7 separate regions of the Homo sapiens genome follow, and all the other regions are linked to region 1. Evidence: fine-mapped expression QTL. A gene starts in region 1. Each other region holds a variant in brackets. All regions are shown on one strand. Distances are from middle to middle.

What was found.
Region 2: its variant is fine-mapped to the expression of BAIAP2 in tibial nerve (GTEx, PIP 0.99).
Region 3: its variant is fine-mapped to the expression of BAIAP2 in whole blood (INTERVAL, PIP 0.92).
Region 4: its variant is fine-mapped to the expression of BAIAP2 in whole blood (TOPMed, PIP above 0.99).
Region 5: its variant is fine-mapped to the expression of BAIAP2 in lung (TOPMed, PIP 0.96).
Region 6: its variant is fine-mapped to the expression of BAIAP2 in monocytes (TOPMed, PIP 0.99).
Region 7: its variant is fine-mapped to the expression of BAIAP2 in blood mononuclear cells (TOPMed, PIP above 0.99).

The regions. Positions count from the first base shown.
Region 1 is chr17:81,032,667-81,036,666 of GRCh38, forward strand. It overlaps BAIAP2 (BAR/IMD domain containing adaptor protein 2), which reads left to right and starts at 2,485. Exons shown (of 14, transcript NM_001144888.2): 1 at 2,485-2,642. The coding sequence starts at 2,589. It overlaps BAIAP2-DT (BAIAP2 divergent transcript), which reads right to left and starts at 2,053. Exons shown (of 2, transcript NR_026857.1): 1 at 1,899-2,053; 2 at 1-732. RefSeq lists a silencer at 2,121-2,430 and an enhancer at 2,302-3,297.
Region 2 is chr17:81,054,170-81,058,169 of GRCh38, forward strand. BAIAP2 (BAR/IMD domain containing adaptor protein 2) reads left to right here. Exons shown (of 14, transcript NM_001144888.2): 3 at 3,712-3,798. Among named protein-coding and RNA genes, the nearest start is that of BAIAP2, 21 kb to the left of the region's middle. RefSeq lists enhancers at 1,930-2,821, 2,822-3,711, 3,712-4,000. The variant G/A (reference allele first, on the strand shown) is at 2,296.
Region 3 is chr17:80,987,270-80,991,412 of GRCh38, forward strand. No RefSeq gene overlaps it. Among named protein-coding and RNA genes, the nearest start is that of CHMP6, 2.5 kb to the right of the region's middle. RefSeq lists an enhancer at 1,928-2,117. The variant G/A (reference allele first, on the strand shown) is at 1,960.
Region 4 is chr17:80,995,010-80,999,009 of GRCh38, forward strand. CHMP6 (charged multivesicular body protein 6) reads left to right here. Exons shown (of 8, transcript NM_024591.5): 3 at 10-97; 4 at 663-749; 5 at 1,998-2,063; 6 at 2,252-2,332; 7 at 3,357-3,411. Among named protein-coding and RNA genes, the nearest start is that of CHMP6, 5.2 kb to the left of the region's middle. The variant A/C (reference allele first, on the strand shown) is at 2,474.
Region 5 is chr17:81,087,235-81,091,234 of GRCh38, forward strand. The region is part of intron 6 of BAIAP2 (BAR/IMD domain containing adaptor protein 2); the gene reads left to right. Among named protein-coding and RNA genes, the nearest start is that of MIR657, 36 kb to the right of the region's middle. RefSeq lists an enhancer at 2,497-2,998. The variant T/G (reference allele first, on the strand shown) is at 1,781.
Region 6 is chr17:81,071,884-81,075,883 of GRCh38, forward strand. The region is part of intron 3 of BAIAP2 (BAR/IMD domain containing adaptor protein 2); the gene reads left to right. Among named protein-coding and RNA genes, the nearest start is that of BAIAP2, 39 kb to the left of the region's middle. The variant T/C (reference allele first, on the strand shown) is at 1,893.
Region 7 is chr17:81,100,314-81,104,313 of GRCh38, forward strand. It overlaps BAIAP2 (BAR/IMD domain containing adaptor protein 2), which reads left to right. Exons shown (of 14, transcript NM_001144888.2): 8 at 3,189-3,410; 9 at 3,594-3,795. Among named protein-coding and RNA genes, the nearest start is that of MIR657, 23 kb to the right of the region's middle. RefSeq lists enhancers at 1,388-1,905, 1,906-2,422. The variant GT/G (reference allele first, on the strand shown) is at 2,418.

The sequences.
Region 1 (4,000 bases):
TGCCTGGGGAACATCCTTGGTGGAGAACTTCCTGGAGGCCACTGGTGCAGGGCAGATGCCAGGCGGGCACCGAGTTTCTTGCCCTTGTTCTGCATTCCTAGGTATGAGGACCTCACCACGTCCTGCTCTGCGCCTGTCATCGGCCGCGGTGTGTCTCCTCAGGTGCCGAGCTGGTCACTTCCATGTACAGCATGGATAACCGTCTTCTCAGGGAAGGCCTCCAGCCCGCATTCAGCCACCTGCCCAGCCGCCGGGCGGAGGGAGCAGGCTCAGGCACCGAGACTGCTGAGCCACTGGCCACCCGGGAAGCAGGCTGCGTTCTGAGTCGGTCACCGAATATGTCCCCCCTTGGACGGGAGTAGCGCAACGATGTGCAGGCCAGCTCAGGAAGTAACGCTGGGAGCTTCTAGAAGGTGGAGCGGGATCCAGGACCGTGGGAGCTTTTCCGGAGAAGCCTACCTCTCCTGTGTTGCAGCTGATGGGAGCAGCAGGGCCTGGAGAAGAACTGTCCCCAGGCTGACTCCCCTCTTGGAGTGAGGAGGCCTCCCGTGTTTGCCTGCCAGCCTCCATCTGTCATCTTGGTTCCAGCCATTCAACTTTCCTCCAGGCGAGCAGAGCTGCTCTACCCCCACCTGCTCCGTGTTGGCCCCAGACCCAACTCAGGCCAGTGGACGTCTGTCCTAGGGCTGCGTGTGAGATCGGTGGGTGCAGGGAACACAGCAGGAAGCTGGCCTAGAAGAAGGGGGTCAGGGTCAGTGGAGATGCTCCTACCTTCAGGTAAATGCCCTCATTTGTTAGGGCCAGTTTGAGCGAGCTTTCTGTCATTTACCACCAAAAGAATCCTAGAAAATAAATACACAGGGATCTACCCCCAAACACTGGAGACAATAAAGAAAAAGGAAGCAGCCAGGGCCAGTAGCTGGAAGGAAATTCAGCCGGAGGAGAGGAGGCGCGGGGCTGTGGTGGGAGGGAGGCAATGCTTCCTGAATCTTACTTCCCTGGTCTTTCCATCGGCCTGAGCCCGTGCCAGTCTGGGGATCTGCCGGCCAGCCAGCACAACTGCGTCTCCCCCAGGGGCCTGACTCGTTGAAGGAATGAATGAATGAATGATTTTGCAGGGATGGGAGGCTGGGAGACTGAGAGGTTTCATTAAACGGAAACGCTCAGATCTGGTGTTTCACAACGTAAAACAAATAATTCCTCTATGTTAGCCTAATTTATGTAAATATTTCTCCACGGGAATTGTACCGGGAGACCTGTGTGCCAACTCGGCCAGCTTCCCCGGCAGAATCTCCCCTTGGGAGGACCCTTAAGCAGGACCCTTCCTAAAAATTGGAGGCAGCTCTGACTCCTCCATTCCTCCTACAAGGTTCCCCCACCCCCTAGGGCTTTCCACCGCATGAGAGTCCTCCGGGCCCCTCGTTTCCTACTGCCCTCGACCCTTCCTTCCCGAGACCTCTCTCTCTCAGTAAACTGCCTCCAACGAGAATCTTCTGACGGCAGGAGGGTCCTCCCCGTCCCTAAGGGTCGCCCTGTCCCCAGGCCTTCCAGCAGGACACTCCCCTGTCCCCTCTCCAGATCCTCCTTCCCAGGGCCCTCCTCCAAGATCCTCTTCCCCAACCCTCCTCTCCCAGGGTCCTCCCCTCTCCAGAATCCCGGCCCCAAGCCCCCAAGCGCTGTCTGCCTGTCTGGGGTCCTCCCCAGAGTTCACCTTCTGCAGGATCCTCCCTCCAAGTCCTCTCCTCACGATGCTCCCCCGAAATCCTCCTTCTCCAAGTCGTCCCCCACTCCAGGGCCGAGCTCTCTCCAGGGTCCTCCTGCAGCACCCCCTCCCCCAGGGTTCTCCTCTCTGCCCCGAGGGGCCGGCCGGGGGGTCGCCGCCCGCCCGGCGGGCTTACCTGCGAAGCGGCGGGGTCGGGGCCTCTCCCACCTGTAAGCCCGGCCCGCGGCGTCCTGCGTCCGAGCCGCTCCCCGCCCCGCAGCGCCAGGCCGCGACCCGGCGGGCCGCCCGCCCCGAAGTGCCACTTCGCGAAGTGCCGCCTCCACGCGCGCTGCCGCCGGCGCCCCCCGCTCTCCTCCCCGCACCTTCTGCTCCTTCTTCCTGCGCCACCCCGCCCCCGCCTCCCCGCCCCCAGCCCGGCTGTTGCCCGGGCCCCCTCAGGCTGCTCCCAGGGCCCCAGCCCGCGCCGCGCCTCCCCTCTCCTCCCCCAGGATCGACGCCGCCGCAGACCAATCGCTGCCTGGAGTCGGCCACTAGGCCCCACCTCCGATCCCGCCCCCCTCCCCCTTCTCCGGAACCCACCAATGGAAAGGGCGGTGCGGGGGCGGGGCCTGGCGGTTGCCTAGCAGCGGCAGCGCCGGGCGGGGGCGGGTGGTCGGGGGCGGTGATGCGGGCGCAACGGGGGCGGGACGCAGGGGCGGGGACTGCCGCGGGGCGGGGCCTGAGGCGGCTATAAAGGTGGCCGCCGCCGGACGCCGGGCTCTGTGGTTCGGGTCCGCTTTCGTCTCCGTCCTGCTGCCGTTACCGCCGCTGCTGCCGCCGCTTGCGTCCCCCGCTCCGGTCTGTGGTGCAGCCGGGACCCAGGACCATGTCTCTGTCTCGCTCAGAGGAGATGCACCGGCTCACGGAAAATGTCTATAAGGTGAGCGCCCCCCGGCGCCGAGCTGAGCCCGCTCCGTGTGCGCCTGGGTCGCGCGCCGCCCGCGCGCCCGAGCCCGACCAGGGCGGCCCCGGGGCCGCGCGCCGGGCCAGGAGGCTGGGACTTTGGGGGTCTTCCCGGCGCGGCCACCCGGGACCCGGGCTGCTGGGGTGGTGAGCCCGGCGCCGGCCGCTCACAGGTGGCCACCCCCGCCCGGGCCCCCCCATCCCATGCGCGCCGCGGCCCGGTCAGTCCCCAGCCCCAGGCCCGGGGAGCACTCCCCGCTCCGACGGCCCTGCTCGGCCCCCGCGCGCTCGCCTTGGCGTCGGCGGGAACGGAGCCGCGCGCCGGGCCCCGGAAGCCCTCGGACCGGTCGGGGTCGTAGCACACCCGGGCAGGGCCGGGGCGGCGGGGGCGGCGGGCCCAGGGGTTGCGGCGGCCAGGACGGCATGGGGGCTGTCTGAAGGCCGCGGTCGGCGCGGTGGCACCGTGGGGCTCCTCCAGGCGCGGTTGCGCGAGCCTCGGGCACTTCATTCTCAACAGGCTTTCCCTTCCCACAACTCCTGCCCGGCGCCCATGCTGGGGCCTAAGGTGGGAGGTCGGAGCGCGGGCAGGCTGGATGGGTGGACGGATAATCTATCATCTTATGTAACCGCGGAGAGAGAAGACTAATTGTGTAGGAGGCTGACGTGCCTGCCTTTGCTTCAGATGTGTTAAGAGTGGCATCCACGTTCTCGTCTGCGAAATGACAGGTTCACATCCAAGGGCCGCAGAGCACCGCTGGAAGCCTCCCCTGCCGCCCCCTCCCCAGTCGTTTTTGTGGCTGGGATACCGACAAACAGGCCCTTGGTTTTCTCTTTCTTCAGCATCCGTTCTCGGTCCAGACCCCCACGCCTGAGCCCGGCAGCTGCCGGGGAGCATTTTCTCAGAGGAGAAACCCCTGCTCTGGGTGTCCCTGGGTCCTGGGCGATCTCTTACAGATGTGCTTTGTTTCAAAACTGTCTGCAGGTTCAGTGACAGGCTGGGCGATGAGTGGAGTGGGTATTTACCCGGCAGTCGCTGGTTCATGTTTCCTAACCGGCTTGCACCCTGCCCGGCAGAGTAACTGTTTCTGATTGTGGTAGGCGGCCAAGGCGTGCCTGGCCAGGGGCCTGGGAAGCCCTCTTAGCTCTCAGGCTTGGGAGAGCCAGATGGAGGCTTCAGGGGTGGCCCCTCTGGTTCCAGCTGGAGTGCAGGGGGCCGATTGCACTTGAATACAGCTTTCAATAAAGCTTGTGAAGTTGGGGCCGCGTCAGTCTGGAAGGTTTCTGAAGGCGGGTGTGCGGTCGACTAGATGAGTCCTAAAGCCACGTCGGAGCCAC
Region 2 (4,000 bases), 22 kb after region 1:
GCTGGTAGAACTGTGCCCGGGCCCCGTGGGGTGGGAGCTGCCTCCTGAGCTGGTAGAACTGTGCCCGGGCCCCTTGGGGTGGGAGCTGCCTCCTGAGCTGGTAGAACTGTGCCCTGGCCCCAAGGGTGGGAGCTGCCTCCTGAGCTGGTAGAACTGTGCCCGGGCCCCGTGGGGTGGGAGCTGCCTCCTGAGCTGGCAGATGGACTTGGGCACAGCCTGTGGGGCCTGGTCAGGAGCGAAAGGAGGTCTTCTGTTCCAGCAACAAAGCTGGACAGCGGCTCTGAGTGAAGGTGTAGCCCATGCATTCTGGACTGGGTCTGCTGTCACTGTGGCAGCACGCCCCTGCCTGTGCGGGCTGCTCTTGTCCTGTGGCATCTAGAGACGGGAGGGGTGCGGATGTCAGTCCCTCAGGATCATGTAGAAACTGTGGGATCAGGGCTGGGATGAAGCTGTTGGTAACTGCAGCAGCTTCGGGTTTGAGAAATGAGCGAACGCCCTGCAGCTCCTTCTCACAAAGAGCCGGGACAGAGGGTGTGGGGGACTGGTGGCTGCAGGGACATTCCATTCTTCCCACTGTCTCCCTGAGACGCTTCCCATCGCCCCCACCCCACCCAGGCACTCCACTGCGGGGCCTTGGGTGCACCTGGGTCTTTCCGTCCTGGTGGGGAGTGGCTTCCTTGTCGCCAGATGCCCTTCTCACCTGCCCTGTTGGCCCCGCAGGTGCCCTTGGCTGAGTCCTGCCATGGATGGGGACTTGCTATTCTTGGACAGTGACCCCCGGTCTCCCTGTACCCTCTACCGTGTCTGTCCCTGTAACTGCAGCATCTTCATGGGCAGAGTCCACATCCCCAGCAGGGAGGAGATCGTGTGTTTTCCGGGACACGTGCTGCGTCTCTGCCGGCGCCCCCGGCTCCTCCACCGCTTCCTGGTGTTGCGGCACCCATGGGTTGGGTGGAGTTGGTTGTCCAGTTTTGGTGCCAGGTTAGAGGTGTCAAGGACGGGGCAGGAGTTGGTCAGCCCTCGTTCCTTTTTTACCACCTTTACTCCGTTGTCACCTGGGGAGAAAGCACTCCAACCGAGCACCTGGCAGAAGGCCTGTCCCTGGCACTGCCCTCCTTCTCAGCTCCCCAGGTGGACCAGTTGTGCCCGCCTGCCACATCTAGTTGGGGGTGGCCTTCATGTTTCCTTGTGGGCATGAATGGGACAGGGAGCTCCCTTGGGCCACCTCCTGTTTGCACCCGGCACCCTGCAGGGGCCCCCATGGCTGCCCCAGCAGCAGCCTTGTTTCTCTCCACCCTGCCCCTCCTCTACATCCCTGGGCCCGGGGTTGCACCCGAGGGACCTGCTCATCAAAATTGTCTTAAAGAGCTGTCCTTCCTCCAGCGAAAGTCTGCAGGGTGTTTTGTTTTTTTTTGAGACGGAGTCTCACTCTGTTGCCCAGGCCAGACTGCAGTGGCGCTATCTTGGCTCCCTGCAAACTCTGCCTCCCGGGTTCACGCCATTCTCCTGCCTCAGCCTCCCGAGTAGCTGGGACCACAGGTGCCTGCCACCACGCCCGGCTAATTTTTTGTATTTTTAGTAGAGACGGGGTTTCACTGTGTTAGCCAGGATGGTCTCGATCTCCTGACCTCGTGATCCGCCCGCCTCAGCCTCCCAAAGTGCCTAGGATTACAGGGGTGAGCCACCGCGCCCGGCCGTCTGCAGGGTTTTCATGACAGTGGAGATGCTTGGGCTGTGGCAGTGACCCCCGTCCCCCAGCCAGGAGCTTCTTGGATGAGGTAGTGGAGGTCGGCAGCAGAGCCTGTGGCAGCTCTGAGGGTCGGCGTGGCCTCCTGGTGGAAGTTGCACCTGGTTTGCTTCCCTATGGTGCACCCCAGTTGTTGGGCAGCTTCATGGGGGTCCCAGGGAGAGCTGCCTTTGCCTCTGGCCTGAAATGTTGACGCTGGAGAGAGGCTCCCGAATCAGAGTAGGAAGGCTGAGGCCCGGCTCGAGGTGGGTGCAGAGGGCTTCCAACTGTGGTGACCCCATGATCTCTAGGCACAGCACACGATGTCCAGATTCTCCGGGCCCAGCTAAGTTCCGTGCCCTGTGAATGAGACCAGTTGTTCATCTCTTCCTGGCTGGGTCTGAATCTTGGCCATTACAATGAGAATCCAGAGTCCAGATGATCCCACCCCTGGAGATGGGGGCTGGTCTTGCACATTGCAGACTGACGATGGCTTCCTTTTTCCAGAGCCACTCGTCTGTGGGACACTTGGTGACCTCATCTACGGTAGAGTCTTCCGTAGCCCTCAC[G/A]TGGCTCTCCGAGGTGTGGGTTTCTTCCCCGTCGTCCGCACACGGGGAAGTGGTGTGGATGCCGCTTTCAGTGGGTTGCGGTGGGGGCCGGGGCCTGTGTTCCCCTCCTCTGGGTGAGCAGGCACTTCGGCCCTTTGATGCCACCAAGGCGTGGGTTCCGTTCGGGCCTTTCCGCTCCTGTTTGGTTCCTCATGAGGGTGGCGGGGCTGAGTGTGGAGACTTGGAGCTTTACTTCCTGCTCCTGCTTTTCTTGATGGCCTGGTGGGAATGAGCTCGGCCGTCCAGGCAGCACCGCCACCTTAGCCGCAGCCAGCCGCCCTGGAGTCTCACTTCTGCTGTTGCGTTTTTCTGCTGTTGCGTTTTTCTGCTGTTGCGTTTTTCTGCTGTTGCGTTTTTCTGCTGTTGCGTTTTTCTGCTGTTGCGTTTTTCTGCTGTTGCGTTTTTCTGCTGTTGCGTTTTTCTGCTGTTGCGTTTTTCTTTTGTTCGAGGCAGCACACCCGTCCCAGGCACAGGCCTTCATTCCTCTGTGGACGTGGTCTTGTGCCGCAGAACAAATTGTGCGCTTAATTGAAAAGTATATAAATAAAATCTGATAAAGTGCCCAGTTATAGGCCCCTAAGTGGGTTCTGTAGAAAACGGATTAGAAATTGTAATTACACTGCTCTCCGGGGCCCTGCCCCGCCCTTTCTGCGGCCTGGAGGTCAGGGCGGGGCTCCCTGTCAGGTGGAGGAGTTTGCCAGGCACTCCCTGGAGTCCCTGAGGAGGAAGCCCAGGCTCTTCCAGGAGCCTGCTCCACCCCTGTGGCTGTGGAGGAGTTCAGCAGGCCCGGAGCCCTTCACACCCACTTCTGATTAGATCAGACTCTGCCTCTGAGATGCTGGGAGGCCCCTCAGGCGGCGGCAATACCAAGTAATGCCTTTAGCCTCCTTTGATCAGCTGTGACGGGCGTCCTGGTCTGAGACTGTGAAGCAATTGGAAATAGTTCTCCCACTCCAGGCTCAGCTTGGGGATCTGTGGGGAAATGGCTTCCTACTGCCCAGCTCTGCAGTTTCCTTGCCCAGGGTTGGTTCTTTGTCTCATGAAATACAGTTAGTACAACACTCCCTCCCCCCGGCCCTGCCTGGTAGCACGTGATAGGGATCAGCTCTCTGCAATTTGACTTGAATAGCTCAGGACCTGAACTGGTACGTTGTGTTCTTACGAGTCAAGGGAGCTCTCATGATTGGGGTGAAACAAGAATATCAACAAGAGATGGGTTCTGTCCAACCCAGAAATCACAGCGAGTCGAGTATTCTCCCAGCTTGTCTGGGCAGGAGACAGGGTTGGGCCTGTGCGTGCCAAGACTGCCGTGTTTTTGCTGGGGGTCTTGTCTGTCCCTCGTGGAGGAAATAACTGCTCCCTTTTCTTCTCTCTCAGGTGTGACGTATGCAGCCAAAGGCTACTTTGACGCCCTGGTGAAGATGGGGGAGCTGGCCAGCGAGAGCCAGGGCTCCAAAGAACTCGGTGAGACCCCCCCCCCCCCCCCGCCTGGTAGTCGCCTGATGCCCTCAGGCAGCTCTGGGGCCCTGTCCTGTGTCCAGCCGCTTTTTGATTTGGGATCAGGTTTTGCCTGTCAAATAGGAAAATATTTTAATGACAGTCACCCTGGGAGCTGCCTTGTGGGGCACACCCTGCTGAAAGTGGGTGCTGGGTCCCCGTCCCCTGA
Region 3 (4,143 bases), 45 kb before region 1:
GTAACTTCCTCCACCACGGGCAGGGACAGCCTGCAGGGTCCAGCAGAGCCCAGGGCAACTTCCTCCACCGCGGGCAGGGGAAGCCTGCAGGGTCCAGCAGAGCCCAGGGCAACTTCCTCCACTGCGGGCAGGGGCAGCCTGCAGGGTCCAGCAGAGCCAGGCCCAGCCTTGAGTTGGGATGTTCTTCCAGGTTCTTGGTTTCTCCTCGTGTGCTCCCTGTCTGTCCTAGAAACACACGCTGCTTCTGGCACTGCTATTCCTGTATTCCTCAGAGTTCTCTTGTAACCTTTTAATAGTGAAACCTCCTTTTCTAGTTTATAATTCTTTATATTAAATGTTCCTGTTCAAATTACTGGTGTGGTTTCTGTCTCCTGCCTGGAACCTAATGGTACAGAGTTAGCACAAGGAGAGGTCCCAGGAGGGCATTTGGGGACTGTTTGCATCGTCCCTAGGGTGTGAATGCCTGGCTGAGTTTCCTGCCAATGGGAAACGGGGTGCTGGGCCCCACTTTGCAGTGGATTTGCTGTGGCCTCTGGTTGGGTAAAAAAAAGGGCTGGGTGAGACTGGTGCCGGGGTGCCCAAGCGGCTGCTGCCCTTCAGAGCAGAACAGCAAGGACACCCCAGGACTGTGGACTGGGGGTTCCTGCTCCACACACTGGGCGTTCACAGCAATCAGATGGCTGGCAGGAGCAGCTCCTCCCAGGCCTCGGGTCAGCTGAGAGGCAGAGAATGTTCGTGGCAGCCCTCACAGGAGCTGCTGTTTGTGGTCCCTACGGGGCTGACATTGCTGGAAATCAAACACAATGTTCAGTCCCGCGTGTCACCTGATCACAGGGTCAGCTGAGCGCACAGCCTTGCCCGTGTCCTCACTTGAGAGGCAGAATGCTGACAGGACAGCACCCCTGACCCAGAGTGGAGGCAGCGCCCGGAACCCCGTGGAGCTCACAGTCGGCTCCTGCCAGGGTGCCCCGAGGCTCCCTTGCCAGTGGGAGTGGTGGTGGCTGAGGTTGCTGGTGCTCCTGAGTTTGAAAACCCTCAAGAGCCCACCGTTAAGACCCTTGTGAGAGGTTGCCGTCCTCCCCAAGCCAGCACAGCCACCTCCTGTTGCCTACAATTAGCATCAGATCTTAGGGATCCGGGACAGCGTGACACAGAAGACAACAGCTCATGCTGGGACTTGGGAATTTTTTCTGTAAGAGAACAAACAGCACCCAGGCACGGTGGCTCACGCTTGTAATCCCAGCACTTTGGGAGGCCGAGGTGGGTGGATTACCTGAGGTCAGGAGTTTGTGATCAGCCTGGTCAACTTGGTGAAACTCCTTCTCTACCAAAAATACAAAAAAAAATTAGCTGGGCGCGGTGGCAGCTGCCTGTAGTACCAGCTACTCAGGAGGCTGAGGCAGGAGAATCGCTTGAACCTGGGAGGCAGAGGCTGCAGTGAGCTGAGATCACACCACTGCATTCCAGCCTGGGTGACAAAGTGAGACTCTGTCTCAAAAAAAAATAAAAATAAAAAATCAAACAGTAAATATCAGGCTCCGTGAGCCACATACGGCCTCTGGCCACCTTGCTCTTGCTCTTCTCCTTCTCCCTCCTCCATTCCTCCTCCTTTTCGGTGTGTGTGTGTGTGTGTGTGTGTGTGTGTGTGTGTGTGTGTTTTACAATCCTTAAGAAATGTAAAATCCACTCTTAACTCAAAGGCTGTACAAAAAAATAGATTCCAGGCCGGATGTGGCCCGCAGGCTGTAGTTTGGCAAACCCTGGCTTACATGCTACAAGAATTCAGAGATATTTCAGATAGATATCGCGGGGAACCTGGGGAGAACCTGCGGGAGTGGATTCGGGGGGGTTGGACCGGGAACACCGAATCGGAACACTAGAGGGGGCTGAAGTCCCTGATCTGGGGGCCTTGATCGCTCTGCCGGGTCTGCAGCTGCAGCCACAGCTAAGCGCTCCCTC[G/A]CGCGACGGCTGAAGCTCAGACCCAGAGGCCCGCAGGTCACGAACCCAAGACCCCAGACCCTCCATGGCCTGCTGTGGAGGAGAGAATCCGAAGGTCCACGGACAGGCAGTCCGTGAGTGTGACCTGCACGCCCACACCCAGCCACGCCCTGCAGGCTCAGAAGCACCACCTTCCCGGACGTGAGGAACACCCGGGCGAGGGGAGCCCCTGCACCCTGAAAAGTCCTGCTACTGCTCTCCTTCGTAGGCCAAGTGTGACCGCGGGGAGAGGGGTGCCCCGGCAGAGATGCGCTCCTTGATCTCCATGGGGTGACACATCCCAGAGCAGCAGCAGGACAGGGGGCAACCGCCGCCGTCAAGTCCCACGCGGGCTGTGTGTGCCAGCGGCGGCAGAAGGAACTGGCGCTCGGGATGCCGTGGCCTGCAGGGTCCTCCGGCGAATCACAGTGCCCAGGGTGAAACAAAGGGTTGGCAGACCAGAGTGCTGTTTGTCTTACACAACAGAAACAAAACTCTGGGTCTGGTGGCCAAACCTGACTTGAGTCACCACAGTGGACAGCCACGGCCTCTCACCTGTTTCCAGGCTGAGCCAATTCACAGACCTGGAGCCCTTGAGTTGGGGGCCAGGTTCCTTGAGGGAGACCCCTGAAGCATTGCTGCAAGGAATACAGCAGCAAAGCCACGGGAAGAGTCCCCCAAAGGGACCTGTACCTGTTTACCAAAGTAACTGTGTAACAGAGGGAGGGAAATACTCAAGCGTCTCAGGAATGACAAGACACTGGCATCAAATGGATTCCAATTCCTTTTCTTTTTCTTTTTCTTTTTTTGGAGACAGAGTATCACACTGTCGCCCAGGCTGGAGTACAGTGGTGTGATCTCAGCTCACTGCAACCTCCACCTCCCAAGTTCAAGCGATTCTCCTGCCTCAGCCTCCCAAGTAGCTGCGATTACAGGTGCATGCCACCATGCCCCACTAACTTTTGTAGTTTTGTAGAGACACGGTCCACTATGTGAGGCCAGGCTGATGTCGAACTCCTGACCTCAGGTGATCCACCCACCTCAGCCTCCCAAAGTGCTGGTATTACAGGCGTGAGCCACCACACCTGGCCAGATGGAGTCTGCTAGAGTCTCGGGGATTTTATAGGGACAGGATGGGGGCGTGGCAGGCCAGGGTGGTCTTTGGAAATGCAACATTTGGGCAGGAAAACAAAAATCCCTGTCCTCACCTAGGTTTGTGGGCACAGGCGGTGGGGGGATCCCTAGCCAAGGATCACGCCTTCCTCTACCCAGCTCTTCCTTCCCCCTTCATGAGGAGCAGGGAGTAGCAAGTCTTTTTTTTTTTTTTCCTCAACGTCCCCATGGACACCAAGGAAAAAAGTACTTCAGATGTCTTGGTGAGACAAATCAGAGGGTGGGAGATGAACCCCACAAAAATTCAGGGGCCCCCTCACCTCAGTGAAGGTTCTGGAGTCCAGAGGTTTGGAACAGGTGATAATTATTCTCCTTTTGATGTTATTTGTTATATTTTTTGTAGAGACGGGGGTCTTGCTATGTTGCCAGGCTGGTCTTGAACTCCTGGCCTCAAGCCATCCTCAGCTGAGTGCTTTTCTTTGACACTTAGTGAATGCTCAGGAACCACAGTCAGGATACTCAGGCGGGAACCGGGGTGGCTTCTCCCTTTTACCCTTTATCCCCATTCATGTGTTTCTTAGCCCCCCAGGGAAGAATGCTTCTGTGGGGGACGCAGCCACGATTCCTTGGAAGGAGAAGCTGAGCCCAGCCATGCTGGTCTCCTCCTGGCACTGATCTACAGACAGGGAGCAGCGCAGTGGAAGAGGGAAGATCCCAGGGCTGAAAGGCTGGGTGGAGGGCGCTGCTGGTCGCATTTCAGGGAACATTTTAAAGTGCAAAGCGGGCCGGGTGCGGCGGCTCACGCCTGTCATCCCAGCACTTTGGGAGCCCGAGGTGGGTGGATCAGAAGGTCAGGAGCTCAAGGCCAGCCTGGCCAATATGGTGAAACCCCGTCTCTACTAACAAACATTAGCCGGGTGTGGCAGCAGGCACCTGTAGTCCCAGCTACTCAGGAGGCTGAAGCAGGAAAATCACTTGAACCCGGGAGGCAGAGTTTGTAGTGAGCCGAGATAGCGCCCCTGCACTCCACCCTGGGCGACAGAGCAGGACTCC
Region 4 (4,000 bases), 38 kb before region 1:
CCTCTGCAGACGGGCCAAGCTGCTGCTCAAGAAGAAGCGATACCAGGAGCAGCTCCTGGACAGGACGGAGAACCAGATCAGCAGCCTGGAGGCCATGGTAGGCGGCCGGGTGCTTCGCCCTGGAGTGCAGGTGCAGCTGGAGGCAGCTCCGCCCGGCTGCGTGGACATCAGAAATTTCTCCCGAGAGCTGAAAGCTCCTCTCAGATGCCTCGGGCTGAAGCTGACCTGAAGAGGGGCGGGCCTGGAATCCCGGGGAGTCTGCCAGGAAGCTAATGGTCTTAAGAGGCTGGGGGGCAGGTTGGCTCTCGCAGGACTGAGGTGGGGAAGGTTGGGCCACCCCTGGGTGGTGTGGGTAGGTCAGGGGTCTGCATGGGGACTGAGTGTCCCTGGTGTTAGGGACCCGAGCGGCGTGGTTCTGCTCTTTGGTAACCAGAGCTACTAACAAGCAACCAGCGGTCCCCTGAGTGTGTCCCTGGCACCTGCTCAGTCCTGCGCATCCCCACCTGGCAGTGGGAGAGGACAGGGAGGAGCAGGTGTCAGGAGTCACCCTCACGCCCAGCAGCACCCGCCCAGCAAGGGTGTCATCCTGAACCCTGCCCCAGGGCCGGGAGGAGGGCACCCCGGATCCTCAGCACCTGCGTCTGCTCTGGTTTCCTTTTCAGGTTCAGAGTATTGAGTTCACCCAGATCGAAATGAAAGTGATGGAGGGGCTGCAGTTTGGAAATGAGTGTCTGAACAAGATGCACCAGGTGAGTCTCTGCAGGGCCAGGGGCATGGAGGTGTGGGGAGCCCATTGGGCTGGAGCTGGGGATAGGGCGGGGGGCTTGTCCCACGGTGTTCGTGTCAGACACAGGGCAAGAGGCTGGCAGGGGAGATGTGTTGGGTGCTGCCAGGCAGGCAGGGATGCAGTGACCGGGTGCAGCACAGGCTGGGAACTGTGGGAACTGGGTCCCCAGGCGCCGAAGTGACATAGAAGGGAAGTCTGAGGGTGGGGAGGGGGCTGGCAAACTAATCACAGAAGGCTTCCTGGAGGTGGCGGGTGTGGTGGCTCACACCTGTAATCACTTTTGGAGGCCAAGGCAGGCAGATCACCTGAGGTCAGGAGTTCGAGACCAGCCTGGCCAACATGGTGAAACCCTGTCTCTACTAATAATACAAAAATGAGCCAGGCGTGGTGGCAGGCACCTGTAAACCCAGCTACTCAAGAGGCTGAGGCAGGAGAATCTCTTGAACCGGGAGGCAGAGGTTGCAGTGAGATGAGATTGCGCCACTGCACTCCAGCCTGGATGATAAGAGCAAAACTCCGTCTCAGGAAAAAAAAAAAAGAAGGCTTCCTGGAGGAGGTGAATACCGGCCTCATCTCAGGCCGGGCATGGATGTGAAGCCCAGCGTGGCCATACCACGTTCCCCCACCAACCCCATCACACTCCTGACATGGGGGCCAGTAGGTGGGGCTAGTTGGAGAGCCAGGGACTCACCTGGCGGGAGGTCTGGCTGTGCTACTTTTCCAAGTGTTTGGTGAGTACTGGTGGTGTGTGCCGGTCAAGCACAAGTGGCCCTTTGACCTTTTGCCACTCAAAAGAAATCAAGTCACCTGCCCAGAATGTTCTACCTGTTGCTTGTTTTTACTGGCGGCTGTGAGAGCTGACTCAGGGTGAGAGGGGGCATCGGGCGCCAGGGCAGTGCAGTCGTGGCCTCTGAAAAGACTCATCAAACGGCCCCTGTGGCCTCAGGACAGGCCCATGCCTGGGACACACATGTCCTGGCCTCATTTAAACAGGGACAGGAGCTGGGTGTGGTGGCATGCACCTGTAGTCCCAGCTACTTGGACGGATCGCTTGAGCCCAGCCTGGGCAACACAGCCAGACCTTGTCTTTAAAAATAAATAAAAATAAACAGAGGGGTGAGGCCATGGCCCTGAGAGCCCAGGAGGCCTCTGTCGGGGGTCTACCATTGGCCTCGCGACAGGGGTCAACACCCATCACCCTCGTCCACAGGTGATGTCCATTGAAGAGGTGGAGAGGATCCTGGACGAGACGCAGGAGGCCGTGGAGTACCAGCGGGTAGGTGGCACCCTGACCGGCCTGCCCCCAACTGTGAGAACCCACAAGGCCACCCTCGAGGGCCAAACTGTCCCACATCCTAGAGCGGCCGCCTTCTCTCAAGGGGACGAGACCCAGCCACAGGCCATCTCCTTCCTCCCTGAGGGGCCACCTCCTCGCTGCTCTCACCACCGCCTGTCCTTTTGCAGCAAATAGACGAGCTCCTGGCAGGAAGCTTCACTCAGGAGGATGAAGACGCCATCCTGGAGGAGCTGAGCGCAATCACTCAGGTAACGGCCCCCCCGGGACTGAGCACAGTCACTCAGGCAGCGGGACCCCCAGAGCTCAGACCCCCAGGAGGCCCTGCCCATGGTGATCTCGTATGTGGTGTCCTTTAAGTAAATAGTCTGCGGTTTGTGACTGGTTTTCCT[A/C]CCTGAGGTGACTCTGTTTTCAGGGTTGCTCACCCAACGGTCTGGTGCAGGCAGGCTGGCCCCGTGCCCTGGACAGAGCGGGGGTGCTGGGCCTTCCTGGCGCCTCGGCCCCTTTCTGTCCCCGGCTGTCACGGATGTGGTGCTGGCTTTCCCCAGCCGTGGCTGCTGACTCACGTCCCACATAGGCCCTCGCTGCGGGGGCCGCGTCCTGGCCCCAGGCTCACATCCAGGCTCTGAGTCTGTATTCACTCCCCGACACAGGGGTTGTCCTCTCTGTGGGCCCCTGCCTCAGTCCGCCAAATTCTCATGGTGCCCCCAGAGCCGGCCTCTGCCCCAGCCCTGCTGCCAGCTGCCCCGGCGCCCTGGTGCTGTGCGGCCCATGGTGCCTGCACCCACTTGCTTGTCCAGTTACTTTCTCCTGAGGGTCCGAGTCCTCCGGGGCCTCCAGGGAAGGCCAGCTGAGAGGCAGAAGCACCCGTGCTGGCTTAGGCAGCCAAGCTCGCTGGGACAGCGTTGTACCGCAGCCCACCCCGCAGTGGTGGACACCAGCGTGACCTGGGTGTCTGTGTCACCCACCCCTCGGTCCCTGAGAGCCAGGGTCTCTGGGGCACACCCAGGACGTCGCCTCCTTACAGCCCCTCAGCGCCCCAGGGTCTGTTGGGAGGAGCCTCCATGGTAGCGGCTGCGTCACCACCTAGGGGATTCTGGTGGCACCAGAAGCCGGGGCGGTTGCAGACTTGGGTCTTCTGAGCAGCACGTTCCTGTCCGCTTTAACTCCGGCTGAGAGCGGCTGACGGACAGGATCCGTGTCCTCTCGGGGAGGCCCAGGCAGCCCGGGGCAGACCTGTCACCTGCTCATAGCCTTACCCTTTGCTTCTTGCAGGAACAAATAGAGCTGCCAGAGGTTCCCTCCGAGCCCCTTCCTGAGAAGATCCCAGGTATTTCCATGTTTGATTCTTTTGAATGGTTGGAATTCGCAGGAGAAAAGTGGATTCTAGAAGGGAACAAGACAGAATGCTCCCAGGCCTTCCTGGGCCGTGGGCAAGCCCTGCTGCCTGGCTGTTTGGCTTGGGGGCGTGCGTGCCTGGCCTTGGGGTTGGGCTTGGGTTTCCCAGGGGTTCGGTAACTGGGCAACCTCATAAGAGAGCCATACCCCATTCAAAGAGACACATTCAGAAATCAGAACTGGGGAAAGGCTTCTTTAGCAGCACCAGCTCATTCCCAGGGTGTAGCCCAGGATTAGCCCTCAGCCAGGGATGGCTCTCCCCGTGGCACCATTCAGCACAGGCTCTCCAACCTGCCCACTGGGAAGCTGACTTTAGAACCGTCCATCCACGTTTGTTCTGTTCCTTTACCCATCTTTGGGGCTCTTCTCCTCTCTGAGTCCCGCTGGGAGGGGCTGTGCTTTCCTGGCCCACTGTCCCGTGTCCCTGGCCCTGTCTGTCAGCCCCATTGGCTTCCTGTTTGTCACTTGCCTCCCCCAGAGCTGGGCGTGCCCTTCCCTAGTGCGAAGTCCCCGGAACTGGC
Region 5 (4,000 bases), 55 kb after region 1:
CCAGTCACCCAGGTAGAAGCTTCTGGGCTGCACCCTGGGGTGGGCAAGGTGTGGCTGTGGGTGAAGCCCGGGCCTCCAGGCCGCACCCTTCCTGCTGGCAGTCAGGTTTTCAAGCCTTGGCAAGCCCCGCACACACCTGCCCGTGTGCGTGTGTCTGCGTGTGTGTGTGCGACCGTCTCCTTGGTGCCGGATGTGGGTGCTCATGAGTGGCTGTGGCCTCGCCCTGGGACTGGGAGGCCGGTTCCTGCTCAGAGCCTGTGCCCCCGCTCCCTGCTTAACTGCAGGGAAGCCAAGCAGGTCTGCCCACACCCTGCAGACCAAGCCAGAAGATTTCCAGTGTGGGGTCGCCTGGTGGAGCTGGATCGGCCCCAAAGGAGAGGACGGGACTAGGCCAGGGGCAGATGAGAAGGATAAGTGAGAGTCTGTGGAAACAGCCATACGGGGGAGCTGGGGGTCCCTCGGGTGCCCGCTGCTGTTTGCAGCCTCCCACTCAGGCATGCTTGGTGCACAGTTGCAGGGACGCAACTCAGGCCGTTCTCTAGGGTGCCCTGCCCTCTCCAGCCACCTCTTCCCGTGTCCCCAGCCTTTGTTTTGATCCTGTTTTTCACTCCAGGTAAGCTGTGATGGGTCTTTTGATCCTTTCCGTTTTGCACTCCGGGTAAGCTGCCATCATGGGTCTTTCTATGATGGGCCCATCATGGTGGCCTTAGTATTCCTGCCTGAGGCTGCTGCAGCGAGCCGTCCTCAAGCTGTTTCTGTGAACAGAACCTGAGCAGTGGGCATGGGGAGTTGAGGAGGAGAAATAGGTATATGTTGGTAGACACTGTGTCTGTTTTTCTTCTTCCTCCCACCGTGGAACGTTTTGCTACTTTGCTTTCTGAAGACAAGCAGCGGACGGCACCCCTGCGGCCTGGAGGGCCATAGCCGCCTCCGAGCAGGTCAGGACAGTGCAGGTGTGAGCCAGCCCTGAGCACCGAGGCCAGGTGTGAGAGCTTGTCTTAAGGGGGACTTTCCTGGGAATGTCCCCAGCTTGGTGTTCTGGGGATGGGGATACTGAGGCCAGTTCACTGAGGGCTCAGCTGCCTGCTGGGGGTCCAGGAGCTTGAGCTCCCTTCTGCCCTCGAGGCTCTGTGGGTTTTTGCTAACAGCGTTTTTGAGATATAATTCACATCACCAGCAGTTCACCATTTCACGGGCACAGTCCAGTGGTTATGAGTGTTTGCAGCTGTGTGTCCATCACTCAGTCCGTTTTAGAGCATTTTTCAATCAGCAGTCACTCCTGGGCCCCTGGCCCCACCAGTCACCAGCCTGCCATTGGCCTCCGTAGACTTGCCTGTTATGGACATTCTGCGTAGCTGGAATCCCACAGTGTCCGGCCTTTGGTGCCTGGTGGCTCACGTGGCACGGAGGGTTCTTAAAGCTCATCGTGCCGTAGCCTGCGCCAGCCTCCTCCCCTCTTACTGTCGGGGGTCAGCCTTTCTTCCTTTTCATGGCTAAATCGTGTTCCATCGTGTGGGTACCGGAGGCTCCATCCTGCTCAGGGCCAGGGCCGTCTCCCTGGCACGGCCGGTACTGCCCTGTGGCTGAGCTCGCTGGGAGCTGGAGATCGCGGCGGGGTAGCATAGGGCCGGACAAAGGCAGAGGCTGGGGGCTGTCGGAGCCACTCCCCCTCCCTCCTGCAGGCTGGAGCCAGAGGCCTGAGGCCCCCACGCAGTCACTGTGGCCCTGCCGCACCAGCTCCCTGGTTTTCAGGTGCCCTGCCTCCCACTGCCAGGCCTCT[T/G]CAGGAGGGCCCTGACCGCACACCTGGCCTCTGCCTGCCCTCCGCGCTGCTCTGCCGTGGGCCCCGGGTGGTGGGATTTACTCCCGAGGCTGTGTGTGCACAGCTAGCTCCTCAAGCCCATCCCACACAGGGGTTTTGGAAGACCTTCTCCTTGCTGATGGCTGGTCTGTCTGTTTGCTGCATGTCCTGGCACTTTTGAGGTCTGTTGGGGGACCATGTTGGTGCCTCAGGGGCCCTGGAGGCAGGTCCCATCTGTTCTTCTCATGGGGGCTGTGAGCCACCTCCAGTGCCTCGGTGGACCCTTCGTTGACTGGCCCAAGGGTCACCTGATTCGCAGCCACAGGGGGCTGGACCTGGCGGTGACTCGAGGGGCCTTGGCCCTGCCTCAGTGCTGTGGTCCACGGTCTGGGCAAGGGGCCGCTGCTGGGTGCCCCAGGGGCTGACTGAACCATTTGGCAACAGAACTAAGGTGGCTGGTGGCTGGGCCCGTCCTGGGGCCCCTTGAGTGCCCTTTCGTGGTAAGCCAGGTGACCCAGTTTTGGGAGTAAGCCACAGCACCTGTTTCCCAACGGCTGCCACAGTCGTCACAAAGCCCCCCTCGTCCGCAGGAGGGCAGGCGGAGGGGGAGAGGGAGGGGGTCGTGGCCTTACAGGCTGTCTGCGTCCTGATGGGCCAGACCCCGGAGCCCGGCAGGGTCAGGAATGAGGGCAGCATTCCCATCTGTGGCTGCTAGTTGCCGAGGCAAATGGTCCCCCTAGCACCTGTGAGTGGGTCTGGGCGGGGACCATGTGGGCGGAGAGGGCAGGCAGGGCCCCGAAGCGCATGGTAGGTGGAGGTTGCAGTGGGTGTGAGGTGAGGGTGGCCCAGCAGCCCCCTTGGAAAGGCCTCTGCCACCCGGTACAGAGACGCTTGGCGAGCCTCATCTTCTCGGCCTCCCAGGGCCCCTCCTGGGAGATGTGTGGTGCTGGTCTTTCTTCCCAGGTCCCAGGGGCCCTGCTGTGGCTCCCCAGCCCTGGCTGAGCAGCCTCCTTTCTCTAGAACTTGCAGCTGCTCCTCCCCACTCACCAGGGGACCTGTGGGTGGCCCCAGGCTGGACTGTCCCCACCTGGGCACAGCCTCAAGGCCCTGGTGTCAGGCTTAGGCTTGGATCTGGCTCTGTCCCTTATGGGTCATGTGGCCGCAGCAAGCCCCAGAGCTTCTCTGAGCCTCAGTTTCCCCATTTGTGAGGGGGAATATCCTGGCTTTCTCCCTCTTCTGAGCACTGACGGGAAGGGCTGTAGAGCCAGGATGAGCCGACATCAACCTTCTCACGGTGCCTGCGTGGGGGCTCTCCTGGACGGACCTCCGCCTCTGCTCCTCCCCATCCGCCTCCTTCCTCTGTCAATGGGAGACGGGGCTTCAACTCTTAACCACACAGGTGTTTTATTTTTGTGGTTTTTCCCAAGTCACCGAGTTTCTTCAGGAAGGGCTAGGTCTCATTTCTCCTGCGTCCCACTTGGTGCCAAGCACAAGCTGGTCACGCAGCAGATAGCTAGTAAGTGCTAAGTGGTTTCGAAACAACATTTTGGGGTGGGAAACAGAGGGAGCCACACCCCGGTGTGCTTTCTGCTCCCCAGTGGCCTGGAAGCCCAGGAGGCCAGGCCTCGGAGCCGTCAGCATCCCCAGCCCCACATCGGAGTTTGAGGGGGTGGGGCACTTGGTATGTGGCTGCGTACGCGCCCCCCGAGCTGCGGGGAGGCTGCGGCCACCATCCTGGGGTGAGTGCCATGTGGCTGCCTGGCTGGGATGTGCTGCCGGCCTCGCTGCTCCAGGCCCCTTGCCCCACCCAGGGCTGTTCCTGCTGGTTCCCATTGCCTTTGCAAACCCGGCCAGCGGGCTCTGTGGGACTTCTACTTTAGGGTGTGGCCGCTGGGGGCCCAGCTGTTGCATGTCCTCTCCACTTCTGAAGAGAGGAAGCACCCTGGGCTGGGGAACTGGGCTGGCTGGCCCCGCCTACTCATGTGCAGCCCCGCCCCTCCAGTGCATTCCACCCCGCCCCCACTTGTGTGGACCCGCCCCCACTTGTGTGCCCCGACTTGTGTGGTGCAGGAGGCCCTGCCCTTGCTTGTGTGGCCCCACCCCTTGGTGCAGGAGGCCCCGTCCCTCCAGTGCACCCCACCCCCATTTATGTGGCCCCACCCCACCCCACCCCACCCCACAGGCCTCCTAGCTGTCCCTAAC
Region 6 (4,000 bases), 39 kb after region 1:
CACGGAGGCGCCGGAGCATGCAGGTCTATGCCTCTGCAGAGTCTGGGGCATCTTGTTCCATTTCCTTGCTGCCTCTCCTCTCGTCCGTGATCATCCCCCCCTCCCCCTCTGCTTCCGGCCTCCCCGGCCTTCCCAGTCTCTTGGGCCATCATCGTGGTTGTGTTGGTCCTGTTGCTCCTCCTTCGAGCGCCCACGTAGGGCTGGGGTTCCCTGCGGGCTGTGGGTGCCGTGCCCTCCCCGGCTGGCTCCAGCCCTCAGAAGCTTGGGGAGGGTGGGCTGGGCCATCTGCATTCCACCTGCCCAAGGGCTGCCACTCCCTTTTCCCAGATGGCTGGAGTGCCCCAGGGCAGCGTTGGGAGACCTGCGCAGGCCCCACCTCAGTCCACAACAATGTTCCTTGATTCCCTCCGGCTTCCTGCTCCTTCACCTCCTCCTGCGCAGCCCGGCCTGACCCATGTAATCAGGGAACAGGAGGGGCTCTCCTCAGTGTCCCTATGTCCATGCCTTGTGGCCACCTGAGCACTTCTCAGGGTCCAGTGGAAAACTCTCCTGCCCTGTTTGACGCCCACACTCGTCAGTTTCACCTTGGTGCCAAGAGCAGACGATCTGCTCCAGGCCCCACTTGGGCCACAGCCTCACAGCCGTCTCCACGTCCCCACCCGAACCTGGCATTTCCTGAATTCCTGGCCCCTGTCCGAGAAGGAGGCTAACCCTCCTGGGAGAGCTCTGGCAGGTGCTGACCCAAGTCCGTGGGGTCTTCAACCTTTGCAGACACCTGCGCCCAGAGGCCACGCCTCCCACTCTGAGCACAGGCGGGCGGACGCTGTCTGGCAGGCTCTGCCTTTCTTTCATTTTTCCTGACCTCTTCGCCCAGCGTCCTCTGCTTGGAGGTGGGTGTATGAGAAGGGGCCATTGGTGTCAGAGTGGGGCTGTCTGCTGAGCAGGTGAACACACCCCCAGTCCTTGCTCTGGGGCCGGGCTGTCCCGTGGGCCTCACGGACCTCATTGTCTGTGGTCATGAGCCTGCATCTTACTGATTTAATCCCGGGTGCCGGGTACAAACATGCACGCTTCCCTGATGAGAAAATGGCATCTGGCCTGGAGCCCCTTCCCACAGCCCTGGGTATTGGGTGCCTGTCACCTCCAGGATGACCCCCAGCCAGCAGACAGGTAGCAGGTGGAGGGTACCTGCTCTGGGGCCCTGGTGGCCCCAGTGGGTTGAAGCTCTCTTCGTAGGTGGCGTGGGGCCTTCTGTCCCCATGACCCTCCAGCGGCCCCTCCCCATGCCAGGGCTCAGCACCCCTGCTCCTCAGAGATCGAAGCCTCCTTCTCGGACCTTCCCCACCACTGTGGTCCCAGCTTCCTGTGCAGTCTCTTGGTTACCCAGGAGTTCAGAACTTTTACCACCTGGGGTGCCTTTCAGATACTCGGACCTCTTGGTTTGTAGGAGTACCAGGCCGGGGTGGGGAGGTGGAGGCTGTGCTGCTCCCCTCACCCTGGGCTCAGCCAGGGCCGCCAGCCTTCTTCCTGGGAGCAGTCACCAAGCTGGTCTCGGGCCGTGCTTTGGTAGAAATGATCTTTTAACTGACTAAGCAGAGTGTTAACTGAAATCATCATGAAATGCTGTTTATGCTCCATTTGGGATTCGGAGTCAAGCATTTGGGGACCCTCGGGCAGGGTCTGAGCTGCTGTTTGCCCTCGCAGATGAGGACGACGATCTGCACAGATCTGCCTCCAACCCTGGGCTGAGAGCATCCGAGGCCCAGGCTCTTCCCTCCCCCAGTCTTTTTCACTGTCTCTGAGATTCACGCTCTCTCTCAGGTTCTTGTCACTCGCAGACTATAAGAACACGTTGTATTTTCTGGAGTAAAAAAAGGCACAAATCTTTAAAA[T/C]GTCACTGTTGTGAAAGCCGAAGTGTGAGGGGCTCTTCTAGGTTAAAGGACTAAAGATGCCCAGCGCCCCAGAGGAAGGGTGAGAGTCCTCTGGGAGCTGGCAGGCGCCAGTTCCTTGTCGCTCACGGTTAAGCCCGTGTATCACTTATTTGTCTCAAGTGCTTATGGAGCAGTCTTCCAATAGGTGGAATGCTGATTTGTTTTCCTAAAATGAGAGAGACTAAAGCCACGTGCCAACGCAACACAGCGGGACCCTTGATGAGAACCTGGATCAGGGAGGAGCTTGTCAATGGCATCGTCGGGCCATTCAGGAGCATGGTGTGTGCTGTTGATGAGAGGAGGATGCGTCTGTGGTAACCTTCCTGTGTGTCACAATGGAGGCGTGATGAGGCAGAGAAGGTCCTTGCTCTTAGGACACAGCTGCAGTATTGGGGGCAGGGGCAGCATCACATTGTCTGATGTCTGCAGTTGAGTCTCAAGGGGCTGAAAAAAGTGCCTGTGTGTCTGTGTGCATGCATGGATACGTGTGAGTGCCGGTGTGTGTGCATGCACGGATACGTGTGAGTGTGCGTGCACTGGTACATGTGTCACTGTGTGTGCGTGCACGGATACGTGAGTGCTGGTGTGCGTGCATGGATGCGTGTGAGTACGTGTGTGTATGCACAAATACATGTGAGTGCCAGTGTGTGTGCATGCACGGATACATGTGAATGCCTGTGTCTGTGCGTGCATGGATGCGTACGAGTTGCCTGTGTGTGTGCACGTGCACAGATGTGTGAGTGCCTGTTCGTGTGCGTGCATGGATGTGTGAGTGCCTGTGTGTGCGTGCACGGATGCGTGAGTGCCTGTGTGCGTGCACGGATGCGTTGAGTGCCTCTGTGTCTGCGTGCACGGATGCGTATGAGTGCCTGTGTGTGTGCATGCACGGATGCGTGTCTGTGCGTCTGTGTGCGTGCACAGATGCGTGTGAGTGCCTGTGTGTGTGCACGGATGCATAAGTGCCTGTGTGTCTGTGTGCATGTACGGATGCGTGTGAGTGCATGTGGGTGTACCTATACATCACAGAAAGAGTGGTGAAGCGATTGTGGCAAAGCACACCGCCAGGGAACCTCGGCGAAGTGAATGGGTGTTTGCTCTGCTATCCCTGCAACTTCTCTCCAGGTTGGAAAGGTTGGGCTGGGAAGAGAATAATGTAGTTCTGTTTTCTAAACCACAGGGAAGAATGGGCTTGGCAAAGCCATGACTGACAGTGCTTTCTGTCTCCTTCACCTTCCCACTGTGTTGAGCCAGAGCCATTCGTGGGAACCCCTGGGTGTGGTTGTGAAGCCAGCCTCGGCTCAGCTCACCCACAGAGCTGTCTCCAGCCACATTTGCATTCCGGCTGTGCCCACATTTGGCATTGGGGGAAACTTCCTGGTGCCTGTGATTTCAAGCCGGCGGCCAGGTCTGCGCCTGTGCTGGGTCTGGGGCATCTTGTGGCACTTCCTTGCTGCCCTCTCTCTTCCGGGACCATCCTCACCTCCCTCCCCATCCCTTCCCCTGTGCTTCTGGTCTCCCCAGCCCTCCCAGTCTCCTGGGCTCAGCAGATGACCACCCAGGGCATCCCCGGTTTGGCCTCAATCTTTGAATCGTGTGAAGCGATCGGAAGGAGCTCGGCCGTCGCCTCAAGTGGGCCGCCTTCCGGTGGGCTCCCTTCCTGTGGGCCGCTTGCATGCCGTGCTGTCTTCAGGGATGAGCAGTTAATCCTTCTCGTTCATCTGCTCACTAGACGCGGCTGTGTCAGAGCAGTGCCTGCCTCCTTGTGGCCCTAACCTTGTGGGGTGCTCCTTTGAGAGCGTCCTGAGTGACCCTCTCCAAGGACCCTACCTCCACCTGTCCACCAGCCCTCCTTGCCTTTAACCCTTTCAGTGCTACGCGTATCACCACACTCCCTCTGTGCCCTTCTCCCCCAGGTAGGGGCCACTTAGAACACTATGGCAGCCTTTGGTGGGCCTCAAGTCCTGCTCCTCCCCTCCGTGGGCACATTGGGGCCCCCAGTACTGCCCAGCCTTTGCACTGGCCAGCCACAGGCTCCATATGAGGCCAGCTGGGCACTGCCATCTCTGTCC
Region 7 (4,000 bases), 68 kb after region 1:
ATGGGCTTTCAAGGCCTTCTAGAACATTCTTCTAGAATGTTCTTGGCTCTTCTGCCACAGCCATGTCCTGGGCAGGTGCAGGCTGACGCCAGGCAGGGGACGGTCATGCTCCGTGCTGGGTGCCGGAGTCCCGGTGGGACACCTGGTGGGTGGCCTCTGTGTCCTCACTTGCTCTTCCTGTGGCCCCTCTATCCACAGTCCTGGGGTACAGCCTCTGGGCTCATGGCTCTGCTCACCCGAGGCACTGAGGACCCCCAGCCCCAAGCCTGGGTCCCCAGCCACCCAAGACCACTGTGCCACTGGGCCCCTAGGCCACCCAAGACAACCATGACACTGGCCCCAGGTCCAGCAGCTGCCATAGCTCGGCTGTCGTACGTGGACCTGCCACCCCTCACCCAACCCAAACCTGCCCTATCTCTTTGCTTCCTGGGTAGCCAGGGGCCCTGCCTGGCTCTCAGGTGGCCTCCCCAGTCCCTCCCTCACTGCTCCAGAGTGGCCTCCCTGGGACTCAAACCTGGTCACAGGGTCCTCCCCTGGCTCCCAGGCTCTTGGTGACCTGTGCCTCTACCACCTCTGCCTGCACCCCTGAGCCACTGTGGTCCCAGGTGGGGCCTTGGGTGGTGGCCACATGCTGCTGCCCTCGTGACCTCTGAGAGACCCCTCTGCCCGTCATCTGTTGAGGGCCCCTCCTTGGGCCGGTAGACTCTTGGCCCTGTGTTTCCCGCTAGGCGTCCCCCGGCACAGTCCTGCGGCCCTGTGTCTCCCGCTAGGTGTCCCCCGGCACAGTCCTGCGGCCCTGTGTCTCCCGCTAGGCGTCCCCCAGCACAGTCCTGCAGCCCTGTGTTTCCGGCATCCCCAGCCTTGTCGTTCCTTGTGGGGGAATCCCGCCCTGGGATCCGCCATGTCCCAGGACCAAGCCTGGCCCTGCTGAACCAGGAGCGAGTTCCTCAGGGACGGGCTGCAGCAGCCCCCTCCATGGATATCCTGAGCCCCGATGTGAGCAAGGGGATCCCCTCCTAGGAGGCTGACTTAGCCCCCAGAGCAGGCAAGGCCCAGAGGCCAGACTCCCCACCGGGAACAGGCAGGGCCAGCAGGCCCCTGTTCACCCATAGTCCATGGGTAGGAGTTGGGATGGGATCACATGTGTCCCCTGGAACATTCTGGAACATTTCAAGAGTTTCGAAGATGTAGTTCCGGAGCCAAGCCCACCAGGGAGGCCCTGGTCATGTCTTTCTAAAATAAAGGGTTGCAGGGATCCACGGGCTATACCTTGACACTTGTTCCCCCCACCCACCACACTCTCATGTACGTGCGCGTGCGTGCACACACACACACACGCACGTGATACAGAACCAGTGCTCCAGTCCCCACAGCCTGGGGACAGCCAGGAGACAAGTGCTCTTCCCTCCCTGGAGAGGCCCCTCCTGCCGGCCTGGGCCTGCTGGGCACTGTGGGCAGGTGCAGGCAAGGACAGCAGCAGCACCTTTGACCCCTGGAGGCAGCCTCGCTGCTGAAGGACTCAGCGGTGACAGGCTGTGCTGCCACAGCTGCCAGGCAGGGAGCGCTGTGGAGCGCAGGCCTCCCGCCTGCTAGACCCAGGACAGTGGCGGGCGTCTGCGCCCTCTGGCGGGGGCCAGGCCCCATGACGGGGCCAGGGAGTGAGAGCGGGGCTGTCAGTGGCTGGGGTGCTGCCTGCAGGGATGGAGGGCGGGGAAGCCAGGCTGCTTGCCGCAGGTCTCCCAGGAGGGGTTGCGGGATGTGCCTGCGGTGGCAGCAGCTGACCTCCTGGGCTCGTGGGCCCCCGGGCGTGTGTGGAAGAGGCCTGTGTCCCACAGACCCACTTAGAGACGAGCCTCTGGGCTGGGGGCCAGGGTGTGAGGGCAGCCTCCCAGGGCAGTTCGTAGTAGCTCCCTGGTGCTTGGGTTTGGGCCTGCCTCGGGGCTCTCAGGGTGCGGGGGTGACGCTGGCTCGTGGCCGCTGTGTCAGGGCCGTGCCGCTGCGAGGTCGGTGTCCCTCGGCCGTCTGCCCTAGTGCTGGTCCCTGCTGGCCTCTCCGCGCCACCCAAGACTCACTCCTCTACCACTGATCTCAGCCAGGGCTCGGCAGACGTTCTGAAGGGCCACAAAGTTTGTGCTTTTGGCTCTGTGGGCCGTGCCGTCTCCAGCTCTGTTACTGCAATGTGAGGGCAGCCATGAATGAATGATTCACAAATCGATGCACAGCTGTGTTGCAATAAAACTTTATTTACAAAACAGGAAGCCAGCCCTCGGGCTGTGGTTTGCTGACCCCTGGTCTGAGCCAGCAGCAGAGGGGTAGGGGTGGCATGGGGAGGACTTGCTCAGAATGGCTGTCGTCCAACATCCTCCGTGGGTCCCCAGCGTGGGTGCCCAGCCACATGTAGAAGGGAACGGGGATGA[GT/G]TGGGGGGAGCAGTGAAAGCCGGAGAGGCCCCCAGAGGTGCCAGAGACATAGCAGTTCTGGCCCACAGCTTAAGGGTCTGGGGGTCCCGGGAATCCAGGCCCTGCAGCCTGCTTAGGCCAAATGGCCAGGAGGGGCAGGGGTTACTTGATTAGCTCCCAGGACCCAGGCCCGGCCGGCTCCCAGTCCCAGAACCTTTCTCCATGCCTGTGGCTTCCTCCTCCTTTGTCCCCACTGTGCTCAGCTGGTCTGTGTCCAGCAGGCCGCAGAGTACGCCCGAGGGAGCGCGGGCTCTTGGGCCCAAGGGCAGTGGTTGGAGCAGTGAGCCTCAGTGTGTCTGACGGGGCTGCCTTCCTGCCCTCGGCAGCCAGGCCTGACCCCCACTGGGCAGCACCACCCCCTCCCCCGGCCATCTGGGGCGCCTTCCTGGCACTTTGGGGTTTGCCCACCGGAGTTTGACCTTGTGCGTCCCTGTCCGTTCCTCCTTCCTCCAGGCCCTGATGGGCCCCGCGGGCGTTGAGCCTGGGTTTGCTCTCATCCCTGGAGGTCCCCCGACTGCATGGCTTGTGGTCCATCCCCGGCCCTTTACCGGCAGCCGCTTCTGTGGGTTGGGGTCAGAGGCTCACGGGTGGCCTGTCTCGCCGAGAGGTACCACCTGGTGAAGAGCAGCCTCCAGCCCCAGAGAGTGCTCAGGGAGGGCCCTCAGCGCTGTGCCTGGCTGCAGGAGACTGAGCCGGCCCTGACCCCTCCCTTCCTGCTGCTTCCACTTCAGGGCAAGGAGCTGCTGGCGCAGAAGCTGCCGCTGTGGCAACAGGCCTGTGCCGACCCCAGCAAGATCCCGGAGCGCGCGGTGCAGCTCATGCAGCAGGTGGCCAGCAACGGCGCCACCCTCCCCAGCGCCCTGTCGGCCTCCAAGTCCAACCTGGTCATTTCCGACCCCATTCCGGGGGCCAAGCCCCTGCCGGTGCCCCCCGAGCTGGCACCGTTCGTGGGGGTGAGTCTGTGGCCTCTGGAAAGCTTCACGGGTGTGGGTGGGAGGGCAGCTTGTTGTCAGGGCGGGGGGCCGCCAGGGTGCAGAGTCCAGGGGCCCCTGCTGAGGGGGCGGAGGGTTCTCTTTCCCCCTGGTCTTGCCCGGGGTGGGCTCCAGCAACAGCCTGCTCTGCCTGCTTCCCTGCAGCGGATGTCTGCCCAGGAGAGCACACCCATCATGAACGGCGTCACAGGCCCGGATGGCGAGGACTACAGCCCGTGGGCTGACCGCAAGGCTGCCCAGCCCAAATCCCTGTCTCCTCCGCAGTCTCAGAGCAAGCTCAGCGACTCCTACTCCAACACACTCCCCGTGCGCAAGAGCGTGACCCCAAAAAACAGCTATGCCACCAGTAAGGGCTCCGCTGGGGTGTTGGGCTGGGGTCCCTGGACGTGCCTCCTCAGACCCTACAGTCATGCCACAACCCTCAATAGGGGCCTGGGAGACCCTGAGGCTCACAATTATGTGACCGTGTGTACCTACATGCATGTGGTACACACACGTGTGCCTGCCCAGCATCCAGCTCCCTCTTGTCAAGCCTCTGGTGCTCAGTGGGG